Regions from separate parts of the Homo sapiens genome. Here region 1 is linked to region 2. Evidence: fine-mapped QTL for protein levels in blood plasma. A gene starts in region 2. The other region holds a variant in brackets. All regions are shown on one strand. Distances are between the middles of the regions.

Region 1 (8,312 bases), 34 kb after region 2:
TACCTTGCAATAACAAAATAGTCCTAGTTCCTTCCTTCCTTTCCTTGTATCATTATTTTATTCATTCTTCTTATACATAACACATACATAATCAAATACATTGTTACTATCATTATTTTGGACAAAGTGTTATCTGTTAGATTAATTAAGAATAAGAAAAATGCAAGTTTTAATTTTACCTTCACTTGTTTGTTTTCCAGTGTTCTTCTTGATATAGATCTGAGTTTTTGACTGATATTATTTTACTTCTCTCTAAAAAAATTTCTCTCAACATTTTTTGGAAGGCAGGCCTACAGACAACAAATTCCCACAATTTTTGTTTGTCTGAGAACATCTTTATTTCTCCTTCAGTTTTGGAGGATAGTTTTTGCAGGACATGAAATTCTAGGTTGGTAGTTTTTTTCCCTCAACACCTCAAATATTTTACTTTGCTGTCTTCTTGCTTGCATGGTCTCTGAGGAGAAGTTGGGTATAATTCTTTTCTTTTCTTCTTGGTAGGTAAGGTGTTTTTCCCTTCTGGCTTCTTTCTGAAGTATTTCTTTACATTTGATTTTCTGTAATTTGAAAATAATACATCTAGGTGTAGGTTATTTTTGGCATTTATTCTGCTTGGCGTTCTCTGAGTTTCCTGGATCTGTGATTTAGTGTCTGAAATTAATTTGGAGAAAATTCTTAGTCATTATTATTTAAAGTATTTCTTATTTTTTTCATTTTTTTAACTACAATATAGCAACTTTTCAAAAACAAAATTTGAAATAGATTAAAACTATTGTGATTGTGAAAAACTCTACAGAGCTCAAGGGAAGGAATGCATGTTGATCTCAGAAATTATGGAATTAGAAAGTTGAACTAGATGAGGGCTCTCATCTCTGTTCCTCTCCTGCTTCTGCTTTAGTTACTTATTTATATTAATTTTAACTGACACATAATAATTGCACATATTTATGGGGTACATAGTAATATTTTGATACATACAATTTGTAGTAATCAGATCATGGTAATTGGCATATCCTTCACTTCAAACATTTCCTTGTGTTGGGAACATTCAATATCTTCTTCTAGCTCTTTGAAAATATGTAATATATTATTGTGAACTATAGTCATCCTACAGTACTATAAAACAATAGAACTTGCTCATCCTACCTAGCTATAATTTTGTGCCCTTTAACAAATTTCCTCTATTCCCCCCTTTCCCTTACCCTTTGTAGTCTATAGAAGCCTGTGTTCTGCCTTTTACTTCTATGAGACCAACTTTTTTTAAACTTCTGCATAGAATGAGAACATGTGATGTTTGGCTTTTTGTTCTTGGCTTATTTCACTCAACATAATATCCTCCGGTTCCATCCATGTTGCTGTGAATGACAAGATTTCATTTTTTATGGCTGAATAGTATTCCATTGTGTATATATACCACATTTTCTTTATCCATTCATTTGTTATTGGGCGTTTGGGTTGATTTCCTGTCTTGGCTATTGTGAATATTGCTGTAATAAACATAGGGGTGCAGATAGATATTTCTTTAACATATTTATTTCCTTTCCTTTGAATAAATGTTTACGAGCAAGATTGCTGGATCATATGACATTTCTATTTCTAATTTTTTTAGGAACTTCCATACTATTCTTCATAGAGACTGTATTAGTTTACATTCCTATCAGTGATTTATAAGAATTCCCTTTTCTTTGCATCCTCACCAACATTTATTTGTGTCTTTTTGATAATAGCCATTCTAACTGGGGTGAATGATATCTCCTTGTGATTTTAATTGACATTTCCTTGATGATTAGTGATGTTGAGCACTTTTTCATGTATTTGTTAACCATATGTATGTCTTCTGTTCAGAAATATCTGTATCAATTACCCATTTTTAAGTTAGTTTTTCTGTTATTGTGGAGATATTTGAATTCCTTGTATATCTGGATATTACTCTTTTGTTGGATGAATATTTTACAAATATTTTATCCCATTCTGTAAGTTTATTCATTCTGTTTATTGTTTTGCTGTGCAGAAGGTTTTTAGTTTTATATAATCCCATGTGTTTATTTTTGCTTTAGTTACCTATGCTATTGAGGTCTTATTCTTAAAATTATTTCTCAGATCAATGTCCTGAAGTATTTCATCGGTGTTTTCTTCTAGCAGTTTTATAGTTTCTGGTCTTATATTTAGGTCTTCAATGAATTTTGAGTTGATTTTTGTATGGGGTGAGAGGCAGGAGGTCTAGTTTCATTCTTCTGCATATGAATATTCAGTTTACCCAGCGCCATTTATTAAAGAAGGTGTCCTTTCCCAAATGTATGTTCTTGACATCTTTGTCAAAGCAGTTGACTGTATATATGTGGACTAATTTCTGGGTTCTCTATGCTGTTCCATTTTTCTATGTGTCGGTTTTTATGCCAGTACCATGCTGTTTTGATTAGTACAGCTTTATGGTATATTTTGAAGTCTGTTAGTGTGATGCCGCAGCTTGTTTTTTTTTTTTTTTTGGTTTGTTTGTTTTTTGCTCAGTATGGGCTTTGGCTGTTTCGGGTCTTTTGTGGTTCCATGTAAATTTCAGGATTTTTTTTCTATTTTTGTTAAATGAAATGACACTTCATTGGTATCTTGATAGTAATTACATTTATTCTGTAGACTACTTTGGGTAGTATGGGCATTTTAACAATATTAGTTATTCTAGTCCATGAATATGGGATGTCTTTCTATTTTTTGTGTCTTCTTAAATTTCTTTCTGCAGTGTTGTATGGCTTTACTTGCAGAGATCTTTCATCTCCTTGGTTAAATTCATTCGTAGATATTTTATTCATTCATTTATATATTTTTGTAGCTATTGTAAATGGGATTGCTTTCATGATTTCCTTTTCATCTGGTTTGTTGTTTGTGTATAGAAATGCTACTAAGTTTTGTCTATTGATTTTGTATGCTGCAACTTTATTGAATTTGTTTATCAGTGTTAACAGTTTTTTGGTGCAGTCTTTAGGGTTTCTCTATATAAGATAATTTTATCTGGAAACATGGACAATTTGACTTCCTCCTTTCTAAATTGGATGTACTTTACTTATTTATTTTTCTTGCCTAATTTCTCTGGGCCAGACTTCCAGTACTATCTTGAATAACAAGGGTGAGAGTAGGCACTTTTTCTTCTAATTCTTCTTCTAATTCTTAAAAGCTGAAAGCTTTTCCCCATTTAGTATAATATTAGCTACATGGCCTATAGATGGCCTTTATTGTGTTGAAGTACTTTCTTCTGTACCTAATTTATTGAAAGTTTTTAGTGATGAAGGGATGTTGAATTTTATAAAATGCTTTTTCTGATCATATGATATTAAAATAATCACCTAGTTTTTGTTCTTCATTTTGTTGATGCAATGTATCACAAATATCGATTTGCATATGTTGAACCATCCTTGCATATCTGAGGTGAATCTCACTTGATTATGGTGCCTGATGTTTTTGATGTTCTGTTGAATTCATTTGCTAGTATTTTATATATATGTTTATTAGTAGTATTGGCTTGTGCTTTTCTTTTTTGCTGTGTCTTATCTGGTTTTTGTATCACAATCATGCTGGGCTTGTCAAATGAGTTTTGACATTCGATGACATTCAAATGAGTTTTACATTCAATTTTTTGGAATAGTTTGAAGTATTTCATCTGTGTATCAAGGACTGGTATTAGTTCTTTAAAAGTTTGGTAGAATTCAGCTGTGAAGCCATTTGTTCCTGGACTTTTCTTTGTTGGGAGACTTTTCATTACTAATTCAATCTCATTACTCATTATTGGACTGAGGTTTTCCATTTCTTGTTGGTTTAAAGTTGTTAGGTTGTCTGTATCCGGGAATTTTTCAGTTTTCTCTAATCTTTTGAATTTATTCATGTGTAGTTGTTCATAATAGTTTCTAATGGTCTTTTGTATTTATGTAGTCTCTGTTATTATGTCTCCTTTTTGTTTCTGATTTTATTAATTTGGTTTTTTCTCTTTTTTTCTTTATTCATCTAGCTAATGGCTTGTCAATTATGTTAATCTTTTTACAAACCCACAGCTCATATCATACTGAATGGGCAAAAACTAGAAGCATTCCCCTTGAAAACTGGCACAAGACAAGGATGCCCTCTCTCACCACTTCTATTTAACATGGTATTGGAAGTTGTGGCCAGGGTAATCATGCAAGAGAAAGAAACAAAGAAAATTCAAATAGGAGGAGAGGAACTCAAGTTATCTTTGTTTGCAGATAACATGATTCTATATCTAGAAAACCCCATCATCTCAGCCCAAAAGCTTCTTAAGCTGATAAGTAACTTCTGCAAAGTTTCAGGATCCAAAATCATTGTGCAAAAATTGCTAGTATTCCTATACACCAACAACAGACAAGACAAGAGCCAAATCATAAATGAACGCCCATTCACAATTGCCACAAAAGAATAAAATACCTAGGAAAACAACTAACAAGGGAAGTGAAGGACCTCTTTAAGAAAAACTATAAACTGCTGCTCAAAGAAATCAGAGATGACACAAACAAATGGAAAAACAGTCCATGCTCATGGATAGGAAGAATCAATATTGTGAAAATGACCATACTGCCCAAAATAGTTTATAGATTCAGTGCTATTCCCATTAAGCTACAATTGACATTGTTCACAGAATTAGAAAAAACAGTTTTAAAATTCATATGGAACCAAAACATAACCCAAATAGCAAAGGCAATTCTCAGCAAAAAGAACAAAGCTGGAAGCATCATGCTACCTGACTTCAAACTATACTATAGGGCTACAGTAATCAAAACAGCATGGTAGTTGTACGAGAACAGACACATAGACCAATGGAACAGAATAGAGAACCCAGAAATAACACCGCACACCTACAACTATCTTATCTTTGACAAACCTGACAGAAA[CA/A]AGCAATGGGGAAAGGATTCCCTATTTAATAAATGGTGCTGGGACAGCTGGCTAGCCATATGAAGAAAATTGAAAGTGGACCCCTTCTGATATGGTTTGGCTGTGTCCCCACCCAAATCTCATCTTGAAATGTAGTTTCTATAATCTCCATGTGTCATGGGAGGGACCTGCTGGGAGGTAATTTAATCATGGGGGGCAGTTACTCTCATGCTGTTCTCATGATAGTGAGTGAATTCTCATGAGATTTGACGGTTTTATAAGGGGCTTTTCCTCCTTTTGCTTGGCACTTCTCCATGCTGCTGCCATGTGAAAAAGGACATGTCTGCTTCCCCTTCTGTCGTGATTGTAAATTTTCTGAGGCCTCCCAAGCCATGCTGAACTATGAGTCAATTAAACCTCTTTCTTTTATAAATTATCCAGTCTTGGGTATGTCTTTATTAGCAGCATGAGAGCAGAGTAAAACACCTTCCTTACATCATGTACAAAAATCAACTCAAGATGGATTAAAGACTTAAACGTAAAACCCCAAACTCTAAAAACCCTAGAAGAAAATCAAGACAATATCATTCAGGACATAGGCTCAGGCAAAGATTTCATGATTTCATGACAAAGATGCCAAAAGCAACTTCAACAAAAACAAAAATTGACAAATGGGATCTGATTAAACTAAAGAGCTTCTGCACAGCCAAAGAAACTATCAACAGAGTAAACAGACAACCTACAGAATGGGAGAAAAGTTTTATAATCTATTCATCTAACAAAGGCCTAATGTCCAGCATCTACAAGGAACTTAAACAAATGTATAAGAAAAAAAGAACCCCATTAAAAAGTGGGTAAGGAACATGAATAGATAATTCTCAAAAGAAGACATACATGCAACCAAGAAACATATGAAAAAAAGCTCAACATCACTGATCATTAGAGAAATGCAAATCAAAACTACAATGAGATACTATCTCACACCAGTCAGAATGGTGATTACTAAAAAGTCCAGAAACAACAGATGCTAGCGAGGTTATGGAGAAAAAGGAACACTTTTACACTGTTGGTGGGAGTGTAAATTAGTGCAACCATTGTGGAAGACAATGTGGTGATTCATCAAAGACATAGAGGCAGAAATACTGTTTGACTCGGCAATCTGATTACTGGGTATATACCCAAAGGAATATAAATAATTCCATTTTAAGGATACATGCACGTGTATGTTCATTGCAGCACTATTCACAATAGCAAAGACATGAAGTCAACCTAAATGCCCATCAGTGATAGACTGAATAAAGAAAATGTGGTACATATATACCATGAAATATTATGCAGCCATGTATAGATGAGTTCATGTCCTTTGCAGGGACATGGATGCAGGTGGAGGTGATTAGATTATCCTCAGCAAACTAATGCAGAAACAGAAAACCAAACAGTGCATTTTCTCACTTATAAGTGGGAGCTGAATGATAAGAACACATGGACATATGGAGGGTGGAAACACACACTGGAGCCTGTCAGAGGGTGGGGAGTGGGAGGAGGGAGAGCATCAGAAAGAATAGCTGATGGATGCTGGGCTTAATACCTCGGTGATGGAATGATCTGTGCAGCAAATCACCATGGCATACATTTACCTAATAAACCTGCACATCCTACCTATATACCCCTGAAGTTAAAATATTGCAAACAGAAAAAACAAAACTTTTTTGTTGTTGGTTTTTTGCATTTCTTTTTAGGTTCAGTTTCATTGAGTTCTGCTCTGATCTTTATTCCTCCTACTAATTTTGGGTTCAGTTTATTCCTGGTTTTCTTCCTTAATATGTGCTGTTAGGATGTTAATTTGAAATATTACTACTTTTTTGATGTAGGGATTTATTGCTATGGATTTGCCTCTTAATGCTGCTTTTGCTGTATCCCTTAGGTTTTGGTATTTTGTGTTTCTATTTTCATTTGTTTCAAGAAATTCTTAAACTTCTTAATTTCTTTCTTTACTCATTTGTCATTCAGGAACATGCTGTTTAACTTTCATGTATTTGTATAGTTTCAAATGTTCCTCTTGTTATTGATTTCTAATTTTATTCCATTGTGGTCACATAAGATGATATGATTGTAATTTTTAAAAATTATTTGAGACTTGTTTTGTGACCTAACATATTGTCAATTCTGGAGAATGTTCCATGTGCTGGTGAAAATAATGTGTATTTTGCAGCTGTTATATAAAATGTTCTGTAAAGGTCTGTTAGGTCTGTTTGATTTATGGTGTGGTTTAGATCCAATGTTTCTTGATTTTCTGTCTAGATCATCTGCCTAATGCTGAAAGTAGGGTGTTGAAGTCCCCACCTATTATTGCTTTGAGGTTTATCTCTCCCTTTAGCTTTAATAATATTAGCTTTATATATCTGGGTGCTCCAACATTGGGTCCATATATATTTCCAATTGTTATGTCGTCTTGCTGAATAAATTCCTTTATTTTTACATAATGTTCTTTTTTATATAGCCTTTGTCTTAAAGTCTGTTTTATCTAATGTAAGTATAGCTACTCCTGCTTGTATTTGGATTCTGTTTGCATGTCTTTTTTCCACTCCACTTTCAGTTTATGTGTGTCTTTACAGGTGAGATGAGTTTCCTGTAGGTGGCATATAGTTGGTTTTTTGAGATGGAGTTTCGCTCTTGTCACCCAGGCTGGAGTGCAATGGCATGATCTTGGTTCACTGCAACCTCTGCTTCCCCGGTTCAAGCAATTCTCCTGCCTCAGCCTCCTGAGTAGCTGGGATTACAGGTGCCCGCCACCATGTCCAGCTAATTTTTGTATTTTTAGTAGGGATGGGGTTTCATCATGTTGGCCGGGCTAGTCTCAAACTCTTGACTTCAGGTAATGCACCCTCCTTGGCCTCCCAAAGTGCTAGGATTACAGGCGTGAGCCACCATGCCCAGCTGGGTCTTATATTTTTAAATCCACTTGGCCAGTCTATATCTTTTAATTGGGAAATTGAATCCATTTACATTCAAGATTATTTGATAGATGAGAACTTACATCTGTCATTTTATTGATTTTTTTTTTCTGCTTGGTGACAGTCTTGCCTTTATTTCTGAAGGATAGTTTTTCTGGATATAATATTCACTGACAGTTATTTTCTTTCAGTACTTTGAATGTATCACTCCATTTTCTCTTGGCCCATAAGGTTTCTGATGAGAAATCTGCTATCAGTATAAGGGGGATTCCCTTATATTTGGCTTGATGCTTTTCTCTTGCGTGTTTTTATCATTCTTCCTTTGTCTTTGCCTTTTGATAATTTGACTATAACATTCCTTAGAGAGGATGTATTTGGGTTAAATCTATTTGGGAAATTTTGAACTTCTTGGATCTGAATCTCTCTCTCTCTCCCAAAACTTGGAAAGTTTTCTGCTATTATTTTATTAAATATGTTTTCTGTGCCTTTTTC
Region 2 (8,323 bases):
TATTATCTGTATTTTAAATGATGTATTCTCACTAATTTTCCGACACCTGGTGAAACATTAGACAGAAGAGAAGACATTTTTGTTTTGGTCTTCCCATTGTCACAGCTCATACCCTTAAGTGTTCCATGCCCTCAAGGATCTGGTTTCACTGTCTTCATCAAATTAATTAACTGGAAAAAAAAGCTTGAGAAGGGGAAGGGGGGAAATATTTATAATGTTTGGCAAGAAGGAAGATGAAACTGCTAACTGAGAAAAAAAATGCATGCTGTTTAATCTTTTTCCTGTTTGCAATGTTTTCTTCCCCTTCCTGTACAGTTTTGCCTTGGGGCAGAAAATTCTCAGCACATAGAAGATTTTTCCCTCTCTCAGACATAACTTAAAAGCATAGTAACATAGTAACTAGCAACAGTAAGGAAGAGGTTTTTTTGTTGTTGTTGTTGTTTTTTTTTTTTGGTTAGGGGGAGTCTGAATTCCAGATGTGTGGCAACTAAGAGATGGGTGATTATTTGTAATTTGGTTAAAATGATCAGTCTAATTTTCCAAAGGTGAAACTGAATGGCAATAAGTACTGAGTTCTGATAAACAGAATGCCCTCACCCCCAACAAGGTAGATACCTATGTCCGAATTACCGAAACCTGTGAATGTTACCTTGTGTGGCAAAAAGGACTTTGCAGATGTGATTAAATTAAGATCTTGAAATTAGATCATGTTGGATTATTTGGGTGGACCAAAAATAATCACAAGGTCTTTATAAAAGGGAGGCATAAGGGTCACAGTCAGAGAAGATGTGACAGTGGACCAGAGGTCCGAATGATGTAGCTGCAAGCCAAGAAATGCAGGCATTCTCAAATCGCTGGAAAAGGCAGGGAGCAAATTCTGCCCGAGCCTCCAGATGGAGTGCAGCCCTTCCAACACCTTGATTTTAGTCCCCTAAGATCCATTTCAGACTTCTGATCACCAGAACTGTAAGATAATAAATGTTGTGTTGTGTTAAGCCACTGAGTTTGTGGTAATTTCTTACAGTAGCAATAGGAAACTAATACACATATGATGTTTACAGGGTTGTGTGTTGACTCCCATTATAGACAGGAATTTCACACAATAATTTTCAAGAAAACATATTGTATTCCAGACTCAAATACTAAGGCCGTAAAGCTCTTCAACCTGGAGAAAGCCTCTAAAAGTCATCATAATTGGGAAATTTACAAGGATGGGCCAAAGTAGATCAATATTCTGTTTTACTTTTTGGTGCAAGTTTAGACAAATCTGTTTATCTTGGACACGTTCAATGCCTTACTGTAAAGTTTGTCTGTGTACAGCAGAAGTGAGAGGAGAACCAATGAGCTGAGAGATAATTCAATCAATCTGCTTCCTCCGTCTTTGCTTCAGGGCTTCATACAGGAAATCTATTGCTGTGTCAAGTTCCAGAGAAAAGCTTCTGTTCGTCCAAGTTACTAACCAGGCTAAACCACATAGACGTGAAGGAAGGGGCTAGAAGGAAGGGAGTGCCCCACTGTTGATGGGGTAAGAGGATCCTGTACTGAGAAGTTGACCAGAGAGGGTCTCACCATGCGCACAGTTCCTTCTGTACCTGTGTGGAGGAAAAGTACTGAGTGAAGGGCAGAAAAAGAGAAAACAGAAATGCTCTGCCCTTGGAGAACTGCTAACCTAGGGCTACTGTTGATTTTGACTATCTTCTTAGTGGCCGGTAAGTTTGAATTCTCTTTGGGAGAACAGTGAGAAACCTGGTCTCAGCTCTTCCTGAGTTTATTTTTTGTCTTTCTTCTGGGGCAATACAAATCAATTGCAATAATAAATATAGGGGGTTGCTAAATATGGGTTACTCCCATATCTAGTTTACTTTATTATCCTTTTTTCCGGTGTCTTGCTTGTTGTACTTTGTATCCTACTACAATATACAGATCTCTATAATTTGTCTTACTGTCCATTTCCTTATTTCCTCCTGTTTTTTGAACAAGGCAGGATAAATCAAATACATACTAGCAGCAATCAAAGTCAGTTAGGTTCTCTTTATCTTATTCTCTTCCCCAACCCCCTTTTTTGAGACAGGGTCTTGCTCTGTTGCCCAGGCTGGAGTGCAGTGGTGCAATCGTAGCTCACTGCAGCCTGTAACTCCAGGTCTCAAGCAGTCCTCCCACTCAGCCTCCTGAGTGTCTAGGACTACAGATATGCGCCACTATGCTTGGCTAATTTTTAAAATTTTTGGTAGAGATAGAGTCTTGCTATATTGTCCATGCTGGTCTTGAGCTCCTGTCTTCAAGCAATTCTCCCACCTCAGACTCCCAAAGCATTGGGATTACAGGCATGAGCCACTGCACCCAGCCTCTTCTCTCTTAATTTTTTTTTTTAAGATAAGAACGCTAACTCATTTAGGTCCACATTGCCAGTGGCATAGATTAGGACAGTTTATTGCTTTCTGTCACTTTCGATGATTAGGCACTTCAAAAATATAATATGCCTACAGTTACAGTGGTGCGTCTGTGATGTATGTCTGTATTTATCTTCAAGATGTGTGGGCTGTAAGAGACACTACGAGTTAGAGAACAGACTCTTCAACATCTAGGTTCCTATAGAAGTTATAGAGAACTTGGGCCACTGTGGGGGTGTCCTGGTTTCACTGTAGAAGGTTGGTAGGAGTTGGTGTGGGAGGGAGTTTTCAGGTTTCACTTTTGGTAGACAGAGCAGCTGCAAGGGAAGAGTGTAGTTGGTTTTAAATGTTATAATTTGATAATTGAAAGAAGAAAAGGTATTTTTCCTCATTTCTGAATGACTTTAAAATGCTGCTTATCTTCCACAAAAAATCTTCTTTCCACATGTTAATCTTACTAGTGAACACATGCAAAATAACTACACTCTTTGACTGCACCTTTCTATTGAGAATTTTCACATGCTTTTTTCCCTTTGATCTGCACAGCAACCCAGTGAAGTAGACATGGAAGACACCTCTCCATTTTACAAAGGTAGAAATGGAGGCGTAGAGAGGTGAAATGATTTGGCCAAGGTTAGATATGACTAGTATGTGCCAGAATCACAATCAGTAATGATATACATCAGTAAGCACCACTAAACATTTGAGTGGGCAATTTTCCTCATTATTTAACCATTGTGCTTTTCACTGAAGAGCATCAGTGAAAAAAGTCAAGCCAATACTTAGTTTTAGCCTTAATAGACTGTTACTCACCTAAAAAGTCAAGTGATCTGAATCTTTCAGTAGTTCAGATCTTGTTGTAGAAAGCTCTTATAGCAACTTGTGTAGGACCCAGCTTGGCTGGGGCAGCCAGATAGGCAAGGAGCTGTTTATGTCAAATTGCACTGTTACTCCTGGGAAAAGGAAAAAAAATGATTAAAACATAATTTGTAATTTTCAATTTTAAAGGTTGAAAGGTTTAAATTTTAAAACTATTTCTGAACACAACTAGGAAAGACTACATATAGCAGATCTATGAAGTCTATGCTTATGTTATTGTAAAGTTATTAAATGTTTAAAATCAGGATTTAAAAAAGCATATTACTTTACATGTAGTGATTTGGTGTGATAGGTTAACCATGACATGATTTAGAATAATGAGAAGCATACCACTTGGGGAAATATGACTTTATGTCTTTATTGCTAAAACTGCTATGTTATTAATACTGCCAAACAGAAAGAACTCGCTTTGTACAAGGTAAATTCACAAAGGAACAAGGGAGCTAATGACTTAAATGTAAAACATAGTATTCATTTGGTTTCCCTATTTTCTTTTTGTCTACTTATTTGCTTATAACTTCAAGCAGCTTGGCAGTTAGTAAACAAGATTTATCCAGAAAAAACCTAAGGGGAAAAATAAAAACAACCTAAATTGTGTACATCAGAGCTATATTCCCAGCCTTGTACCTGGTCCCCTTCCCGGACACTCCCCGTACCCTGTGCCACTTCTTCCTCCTTTTTTTTAGCCCTATTGTCTTCTAGATTTTTGTGTGTGTGTTCAAATTATATTTTGGTGTTCCAATTAAAATTATTCCATCTTTTATAAAAGTTACTGATTTTGTGATTATGAGTTACTAAAAAGGAACCCTTCACTTCTTTCCTTCTTTGGGCTAATTTTTATTCATTTATTGTTGTCTTCCACTAGAGGACAGGCAGTAACAAGAAGAGGAGATAAAAATCAAGACAGGGCTCTAAGGTAGCTTTGGCAGATTTGCAAACAGTGGAAAAAGATTCAAAACAATTGTGCAAAAGAAGGGTTTTGTCCTTATTAATAACTTTAGTCCTATCTTCCTTTTCTAGTTTGCATATTTGTGAATTTACATGTTATAATAATTTATAGGTGTGTTTTTCTCTAAATGTTCATGCTTAAGCAATTAATAAATTAATTAAAAGTCCTTATTAATGTCTGTGTGTGTGTGTAGAATAGTGCCTAAAAGTTATTAGTAATCTAAATTAGAAAGACAAAGGTAAGATGAAACAATTGGTGAACATTTAAAATCAGTAAATCTTGAAATTGTATATGAAACTAGTACAAATCTAAAGGAGGGAGAAATTACAGTGGGTTGGAGTTGTGGAGGATTTTATGGAGATGGGTCTTGAGCTAGGCTTTGAATGACAGGTTTGGATAAATGGGGAAATGCAGAGAAAGGAATTGGAAGGATGGGATGTGTAGCATGTGCAAATGCAAGGTGCTTCAGAGAGAGAAAGAGCTGTAGCTTGCAGGAACAGAGGTTGTGTGTTAAATAATAGTAGGAAATAAGGCTGGATTTTGGGGGTCCTTAATAGCTAAATTAAAGAACCTGGGTATTAGTCAGTAGACAATGAGGAACCACCTGTTCTTTGGTGAACAGGAAAATTTATAATTAAGTAGGATTTTTTGGAGAATAATGTGGTAACAGTGTCCCATTGAGTGGCGGTGGCACTAGGTAAAATATTTATTTTGAAACATGAGTCAAGAGCTTCTGCCCTGGGGTTCTCATTTGAAAAAAGTTCTGTGATGCCGCTGAGGTATATATGTGACTGAGAAGGGAGTTTCGTTGTGGAGGAAGATATTAAATTCAGTATAGGAAGGGAGGACAAGTAGGAGGAAAATTCCTACAGATACTTGGAAATACAGTCAGCCCTCTGTATTGCATCCCTGGATTCAACCAACTTCAGTTGAAAATATAAAGGGAAAAAATAGATGATTTCATTAGTACTGAACATGTACAGATTTTGTTCTTGTCATTTCCTAAATAATTCAATATAATAGCTACTTATGTATTATTTACATTGTATTAGGTTTTATAGCAATCTAGAGATGATTGAAAGTATGTGAGAGATTGTACATAGGTTATATGAAATACTACACCATTTTATATTAGGGATTTGAGCATCCTTGAATTTTGCCATCTCTGGGGGTCTAGAACTAATCCCCCAAGGACACTGAGGGATGACTGTATAGAAAACTCTAGTGTTTGTGAATCATTCATGAAGTAGATGATCCATCCCACGAACAGAATAAACATATGGACAAAAACAATAGAATAAGCACTAGAGATATTTGGATTTGGGCTCTAAGAACCATACTTATCTCTTTCCAGTCTATAAAAGATAGGAAGATCTGAGAAGAGACAGGAAGGGAGCCAAAGTGGAGTATCAATTGAGTGCTTAACCTCATGTAGGAGGAGATACTCTTCTGAAATTGAGGATTAAGATGAGACATTAGATAGAGGGATGCTAGTAGCTTGAGGATGGCAATAAGGTAATGGGAACAAATGAGAGAGTTTACCGTAGATAAATTTCCTCCCAATAAGGTCATGAATATTTCAGTTAATGGCATTTAGTTAATAAAATGACCCAGTTGTTGTTTGATTTTATGTTGTGTCTGAAAAATTAACCATTTGTGTCTGAAAAACCATTTGTGTCTGAAAAATGTAGTAGCCATCAACATGTTTTTACCTCTTCTGCCTTATTATCACTCACATACATTTGTCAATTGCTGACTGGGATTTGGGAGCAGATCTGTGGTTATAAAATACCTTTGGACTATGTGATGCTAGTAGGCCCTAAGAATCAAGTCAACAATCATTACTTTTTAAATAATAATAATGGTAATAAATATCACTGATTTATATAATTCATATAATAGACACAGTCACAATCAGCCCTTTTTCCCCCCAGGAAGAAATGATATTGTTCATGCATTAACACTAAGCAACAACTTCAGAGTTTTTCTACATAGAATTTATATGCCTAGACCCCATTCTAGGACCAAAATCTTTAAGGAAAGCAATACCAAAAAGTTCCAGGATTAAAGCAGGGCTAAAAGTTTTTCTATTTCTTTTTTGAGACAGGGTCTTACTCTATCTATCACTCAGGCTGGAGTGCAGTGGTGCAATCATGGCTTACTGCAGCCTTGACCTCCCAGTCTCAGGTTATCCTCCTGTTTCAGACTCCCAAGTAGCTGGGACTACAGGTGTGCACCACCACGCCAGGCTAATTTTTTTTTTTGTATTTTTTGTAGAGACAGGGTTTTCCCATGTTGCCCAGGCTGGTCTTGAACTCCTGGGTTCAAGCAATCCTCCTGCCTTGGCCTCCCAAAGTGTTGGAATTACAGGCGTGAGTCACTGTACCTGGCCAGTTTTTCCACTTTTGAAGAAATAATTTTCTTCAAAAATGTCTGTTACTTTGAGTTATTGTTGCTGTTGCAGGTTCTCTTGGAAGTTAGACTCTGAGATAGAGTTTTGTGTACAGTATGCTTGTGAGCAGAGGGAGAAGTCTACCTGCAATCTCAACCAACTGACACCCTCACTGACCCCACAGGGAGCTCAGGAGCTAGATTGGCCTTAGAGAGGCCCTGCATTGAATAAAAATGGCTGTTCCTTTATAACTCCATCTAAATCAGTCGTTGGATATGGGCTCCCCTGGAAAGGGTCTGACTTTGGTCTAAGTAACTGAAGTCATCCCTGGAGAGGCTGAAAACTGAAGACTGTCTGTTGACAGTGATCCTAGTGGCAGGAACAAAAAGTCAGAGGCAACTGTTGGTGGCACATACTATGTCCACTCTAGTTGTCATTTCTAATACTCTTAATTCCTTCTTGAATTTCCAAGTTTCTACCTGGTATTATTTTCTTTCATCCTGAATAATTTCTGTTATTGTTTCTAGTAGTGTAGGTCTGCTAGTGAGGAGTTCTCTTAGTTCTTAGTTCCCTTTTTATACATATTTTCCCCAATATCTTGTCTCTCTGTTCTTTTGATTGAATAATTTCTATTGCTATATATTCAAGTTCACTGACAATTACAATTTCCTTTCTCCTCTTCATTCTTCTGTAAAGCCCTAGTTAATATATTATTTTAGATATTGTATTTTTCAATTTTAAGATTTCCATTTATTTGTTAAAAGTTTTTTTTCTCTGCTGAGATTTTTCTGTGTTTTTATTCATTCATTGTGAGTATATATTTCTTTATGTCACTAAGCATAGCTGAATGTTGCTGTAAGACTCTTGTCTGAGAATGCGAGTGTCTGGGTCAACTTGAAGTTGTTAGTCTCCCTTAATGTATTTTCTCCTAAGCATAGGCCACATTTTCTTGGTTCTTTGTAAATTAAATAGTTTTATTTGGGTTTTGAATGTTGCACAGATTCTGTTATATTGCTGTGTTGATATTTTACTTGGTTGGACCCAAACTGCAAACTCTACCCCTTGGACAGCATCTCAAATCTGAGTTCTTTTACTGGTAGCTAATCTGCTTTGACTGTGACCTGCAATGTGTGGTTTAGAGTCATCAGAGATATGGGTAGAGTGTATGCAGAATTTGGAACTCTTTTACTCTGACTCTGTCACTTTTCAGAGAGTAAAGTTGCCCTAAAATCTGCCTGCTGGTTCTTCAGAAAACTGTGGGCTTTCCATTAGAGTAGCTGCCTAATGTGGTATCATCTGCAGCCCTCTCTGGGACTAACATCGGTAAAAATGGGGAAATAATGGGAACCTACACCCACAACTCTGATCCCCTATTTCCTTCTTCCAAGCATTGACACCCTTCAAGAATTTTTCTGCTTCCTCCACTTTCCAGTAACCTCAGGTAGTTGTTTTTATATTTTGTCCACAATTTATAGTTCTTACCTGTGGAAACTCACTGGCCCATAAAGAAGTGAAACTTTCTTCAAATATACATATTTTAAAATATTATTGTATTTTTACAACTAATATTGACTTAGTGGTTATATTGTCTTGGATGTTAAGATTGAATATATTATTATGCTTTTTTGCTTTCTAAATGTTACCCATGCATTGAATGTTTTGGTACATTTCACTTTTCTCAGTAAAATTTCGTTCTTCTTTCCCATAATTTCT

Which allele goes with the higher level. Positions count from the first base shown, and alleles are read on the strand shown. Strength reflects both the effect of a copy and how common the allele is.
As copies of A replace CA in region 1, the plasma level of the protein whose gene starts at base 1,397 in region 2 goes up (strong association).

Evidence for each region. A credible set is the group of variants that fine-mapping cannot tell apart. PIP is the chance, under the fine-mapping model, that this variant and not a neighbour inherited with it causes the effect. The UK Biobank Pharma Proteomics Project read protein levels with antibody pairs (Olink). The fine-mapping took linkage between variants from a reference panel, not from the people measured, so its PIPs are less certain.
Region 1: its variant is the best candidate, but not a certain one, in a credible set for the plasma level of the CD200R1 protein (UK Biobank, PIP 0.61).

The regions. Positions count from the first base shown.
Region 1 is chr3:112,934,041-112,942,352 of GRCh38, reverse strand. The region is part of intron 2 of CD200R1 (CD200 receptor 1); the gene reads left to right. Among named protein-coding and RNA genes, the nearest start is that of CD200R1, 37 kb to the left of the region's middle. The variant CA/A (reference allele first, on the strand shown) is at 4,887.
Region 2 is chr3:112,968,177-112,976,499 of GRCh38, reverse strand. It overlaps CD200R1 (CD200 receptor 1), which reads left to right and starts at 1,397. Exons shown (of 8, transcript NM_138806.4): 1 at 1,397-1,709. The coding sequence starts at 1,643.